Linked DNA regions of Homo sapiens: region 1 is linked to region 2. Evidence: fine-mapped expression QTL. Tissue or cell type: cerebellar hemisphere. Region 2 holds a variant in brackets; the other region holds the start of a gene. All regions are shown on one strand. Distances are between the middles of the regions.

Evidence for each region. PIP is the estimated chance that this variant, and not a neighbour inherited with it, causes the effect.
Region 1: SMARCB1 starts here. The variant in region 2 is fine-mapped to the expression of SMARCB1 in cerebellar hemisphere (GTEx, PIP above 0.99).

What each region holds. Positions count from the first base shown.
Region 1 is chr22:23,785,677-23,788,176 of GRCh38, reverse strand. SMARCB1 (SWI/SNF related BAF chromatin remodeling complex subunit B1) reads right to left here and starts at 1,211. Exons shown (of 9, transcript NM_003073.5): 1 at 915-1,211. The coding sequence starts at 1,007.
Region 2 is chr22:23,822,039-23,824,780 of GRCh38, reverse strand. The region is part of intron 6 of SMARCB1 (SWI/SNF related BAF chromatin remodeling complex subunit B1); the gene reads right to left. Among named protein-coding and RNA genes, the nearest start is that of DERL3, 16 kb to the left of the region's middle. RefSeq lists an enhancer at 1-98. The variant C/GGAGTCTC (reference allele first, on the strand shown) is at 1,089.

The sequences.
Region 1 (2,500 bases), 36 kb after region 2:
TATGGCCGGGTGTGGTGGCTCATGCCTGTAATCCTAGCACTTTGGGAGACCCAGACGGGCAGACTGCTTGAGCCCAGGAGTTGGAGACCTGCCTGCGCAACATAGCCAGACCCTGTCTCTATAAAAAACAAAAAACAAGAACCTAATAGACTTGGAACAAACACCCATTCAAAGGCCAGTAGAGTTTTCCTGAAGTCAGTCATCCAGTTGATGCAACAAAATGCAGCCACTCTAGTTAAGGGTTAAACATCCTTAGGCTCTTTCCCCTGTAATAATTCAGAATCAGTTCACAGATATGGAAAGTGTCAATCGCTTCAGAACTGCTGAAAGATCTAGCTTAGGCATGGGGCCCTTATTCACCCAAAAGCAAACATCTTCCTCCAATCTGTTTCTTCACCGGTAAACAAAGGTCAAAAGACCTCCACTGCTCACCTAAGAGGCAACAAACACAATGGGGATGAGCCCTCACTAAGTCCAGGGTTTCCAGCCTGCCATTTGAGGTTCCCACAAGTAGCAATACGGGGAGGGGTGCACGTGAAATTTACGACATCTAAAAAGGGTCAAAGGCAGCAGTGCAGTCCCCCAAGCGTCGCAGGGGCTAACTCAATATCCCGTTTCTTTGCGTCTGACTGGAAACCAACCCAGCGCGGAACCACTGGGGCCCCTCGCGGCGCCAAAATCTTGGCAGCACTGAAGGCGGCGGACCTCGGCGAAATAAGTAAGGAAATCCCAGGTCGATGAGGGGGCGGGGGCCACACCCGACACGCCCACTAGGCCACGCCCCACAGCCCCGAGCGCGCGCGCGCGCGCCCGCCCGCCCCGATGAATGGAGACGCGCGCTCTCGGCGCATGGGCCCGCCCCGGGGCTCCCGCGGGGCCGAGCCCGGGGAGGGCGAGAACGCGCCCCGGGCTACCTCGGAGCCGATCATGTAGAACTCGCCGTCGTCCTCCAGCTGGAACTTCACGGGCTTCTGCCCGAAGGTCTTGCTCAGCGCCATCATCATCATTGCGGCGGCAGAGGCGGGCGGCCGGAGCCGGGCTGCGAGGGATCAGGAGGGCTGGGGCGGGGCCGGGGCGTGCTGGGCCGAGGGAAACCGAAGCCGGAAGGCGAAATGCGGACCGGGCCGGGTACTGGCGCCTCAGCCGGGCTCCTCAGCCGCCGCCGCCGCCGCAGACGACGACCAGGCCGCCCTCAGTGCGCAGGCGCTGGCGTTGACGCTGACGCGCGCGCCGCCGCTCAAACAAAAGGCCGGGCGCGCCTCCGCGGACCCCTTAAAGGAGCCACGACTAATTTCTCTTTCTCCCAGGCTGCCTCCCAAGTCGTGGTGTAGAGGACTTCTCACGGACAAAAATAGCCAATGAGGTCCTGACTCAAGCAGTGGCTTTCCCAGTCTTACAGCCAGGACTGGAACTGAGCCCAGGGGAAAAGCAACGAAGTGAGGCCTGAAGGAGGAGGACCTAGTATCTGGAAGCCTGGGTGGTCTGGGCATGCTTTGGGACCCCAATCTCGTGCCTTAGCTTCCCCACCCCTAAAACGCAGTGCAGCTGAGCAGATAGGCAGGCCCCTAGGAAGAGATATCCCAGTTCCGGGCCTACGGCTGTCCCTGCAGCTGTGGAGGTGGGCAAAATGACAACAGCGGATGAGGCTTGGCAATGTTCAAAGGCCCAGGTGGTATTTGGTTTGGCTGGTGCATCAGATGAGCGTTGGAAGGGAGAGACACCTTCCACCTTCTCCATTCCTCTCTTAGCCTACACTCTGCTTAACCGAGCCCTGCAGTGGGGAGTGAAACCAGGCAGCCCAGCCCTGTGGCTCTGCCTCTTGGCTCTTACAGCGCGAAGCTAGTGAAACTAATGAAAGTCTGAAAGCAATCATGATTGAATAATGCAGGGAGTAAAACAGTGGCCCACTACTGATGATTTCACACCGTTCAATCTAATGAAATTGCAGCTGTGGCTGGGCTCAGCGGCTCATGCCTGTAATCCCAACTCTTTTTTTTTTTTTTGAGGCTGGAGTCTCCTGCCTCAGCCTCCCAAGTAGCTGGGACTACAGGCACCCGCCACCACGCCCAGCTAATTTTTTGTATTTTTAGTAGAGACAGGGTTTCACCATGTTAGCCAGGATGGTCTCGATCTCCTGACCTCGTGATCCGCCCCCCTCGGCCTCCCAAAGTGCTGGGATTACAGGTGTGAGCCACTGCGCCCGGCCTTGTAATCCCAACTCTTTAGGAGGCCAAGGCAGGGAGGATCACTTGAAGCCAGGAGTTTGAGACCAGACTGGACAAGACAGCAAGACCCTGTCTCTACAAAAATTCTAAAATAAATAAGCTGGGTGTGGCATGGCGGTGTGCACCTGTAGCCCCAGCTACTTGGGAAGTGGAGAGGGGAAGATCCCTTGAGCCCAGGAGTTCAAGGTTATAGTGAGCTGATTGCACCACTGCACTGCAGCCTGGGCAACAAAGGGAGACCCTGCCTCTCTTAAAAAAAAAAAAAATGCAACTAT
Region 2 (2,742 bases):
AAACCCTGCCTAGCGTGTTCACAGATGCACCCCACTCTGGGTCAACACGGTGAGGGGACAGGGAAGCCTGCAGGGATCACAGTGCTGGGCCAGCTCCTCCACATTCCCCAGAGGACTCCCTGCAGCACGTGACTCACAGCCAGAGGGCCCAGGCCCCGGGTGTGCTGTCAGGGGTTTTCCACTAGTGGACACCTGGGAAGCCAGCACCCAGCTGAGAGAACACAGACTGTACCCCAGGGGCTCCCACCTACACCTGCCCCCCTGGGGAGGCACCATTTTGACTTCTCACCCCTTGAGTAGGTGTGGCTGTTCTGAATAGGATGGACACTTCGGGGTCCAGGTTCATTCACTCTGCATCATGCTTGCAAGACTCCTCCCATTAGAGTGTGGGGCTGGGGTCATCCCTCACTGCTATCCAGTGCTCCACAGGGCAACCAGGTCACAGTGCACCTGCCCATTCATTGTTGGCCCTTAGCTTTTAAGTCAAGGATCAGGGTGGGCAGCTGCAGGGAAAACTCACCACTGCCTCGGAGTCCAGCCCTTCCGGGGACTTCTGCCTCCTTTTAGAGATTAGGGTACCCCAATCCCCGATCATGTTCATAAAGCCCTGTGCCTCTGAGCCCTGCACATCACCACCCACTTGCTAGAATGCTCTTCCCCTCACCTGGCAGGACCAGCCTCTTCTCAGCATCCTGGTCTAAGCTAAAGTGCCAGCTCCTGAGAGCTCCCCTTCCCATCAGCCCCTTTCCACACCCTTCTCTCCATTTTCTCCCCCTTTGGAGACAGGATGTCACTCTGTCACTCAGGCTGGAGTGCAATGGCATGATCATGACTCACTACAGCCTTGAACTCCTGGGCTCAAGAGACCCTTCTGCCTCAGCCTCCTGAGTAGCTGGAACTACGGACATGCACTACCATGTCTGGCTAATATTTTGTAGAGACAAGGTTTCTACAAGGCCCAGGCAATGTATCAAGTGTTTTGGGCAGAGAAGAGACCCTGTGGTTGAGCCTTCTGTTCCCCGCAGGCTTCCCTGCTGCCTCTCTGTGTTGGCCCAGGCTGGCCTCAAAAGATCCTCCCCCGAGAGTCT[C/GGAGTCTC]CTGAGTAGCTGCGACTATACGTGCGGGCCACCATGCTGGCACCTCTCCTATTTTCTTCACAGCACTTAGGACTGTCTGAAACAATCTGAATCATTTGCCTCCAGGAATTCTAGCACAGGCAGGGTGTATTTGTTCTGGGAATGAAGGAATCCTCACGCAGAGGGAGGAAGCCGAGGGCAGAGCTGCAGTGTCCTGTACACGGCATGCAGCCAGGCAATGGGGACTGCAGTCGGGCCCCCATGTCCTTTGCTATCTCCACATACGCCCACGCCTGATGATGAATGGAATCGGAGGCACTGGCCCTTCCCAACTGGAATCTAATGCCAAGCAAACCACGTGGGTGCTGGGTCCAAAAAGAACGTGCAGCAGCAGACAGCCCATGGAACCACCCAACAGGACCCCATAGGACCATAGGCACATGGCTCCCACCCAGCAAGCCCTCCCTGCCCTGGGCTCATGGATGGAGTTGCCTGTCCCCTGCCATTCAGTCACTAACACATTCATTTATTCCAAAGTCTAGACTGTGTGTCTACCAAGGAGAGGCACAAGAGAGACAAACATTCAAAAGGCTGTTCTGAGAAAGGTGAGGTGGTACATGTCTGTAGTCTCAGTTACTTGGGAGGCTGAGGTGGGAAGATCACTGGAGCTCAGGTGTTTGAGTCCAGCCTGGGCAACACAGCGAGACTCTGTGTCAAAAAAAAAAAAAAAAAAAAAAAAAAAAAAAAAAAAAAAAAGCTATGCTGGTGGGGGCACTGACAGACACTAAGTAGGTTAAGTGAGCATGTGGTGTACCAGAAAGCACGGGAGTGCCAGGGAGGAAAGGGAGGGAGGGGGAGAAAGTCCAGGCTGGCCTCAGAAGTCAGGAGGCCAGGAAGGCTTCTAGGAAGGTGGCCTTTAGGAAGAAGTGAATGTGCCCAGGGAGCAGGAATGTGGCTCCCTGGGGGAGAACAGTCCCAGGTGGGGGACACAGAGATGTAAAAGACTGAGGAGCCAAGGTCTGGTACCCGGATCTGCCCAGTGAGGGGAAAAGGGAGGAGATGAGGGTGGCGAGGGACTGTAGCAGAGAGCAGTTAGGGCCCTGAGGCCTTTGGACAGGCTTGGCTTCCACAGAGGGATGTGGGAAGCTTCTGCGGTATTTTGGGCAGACAAGAGACATGGGCTGAGCTGCCATGCTGAGACCTCTACTGGAAGGCGGGGAGGGAGGAAGGGAGCCATCTGGCAGTGGCCTTGGTGGGGTAGTGAGGAGTGCTGGACTCCAGGTGGACTCACAGAGCTAAGACGGGGCCAGGACTCCCAAGCAGGTGCACAGCAGGGCCAGGCCCCTGCCCACCTCCCCAGCCCTGACTCACATCTCACCCCATGCACTCTCTGGACGGGGCCTGGACAGTGCCACAGGGTCTGATGGCTCAAACTGCAGCAGCACCATGTCCCCAGCTTCCTCCCCTGCCCCCCAACCCCTGCTGGAACTGGGCAAAGCCGACTTGGGCCAGGTGCCCTGGCAAGGGCAGCCAGGCCTGGGCTTTGGTCCCAGCATTGCCAAGAATATCTGGAAGATGCTGCTCTAACCTAAGGCACTCTTTCTGAGGAGAGAGATGGTCCTCATGTGCCATGGCTCCAAAGATTCTTGTTTTCCTTCAGTCATGTTCCAGGATC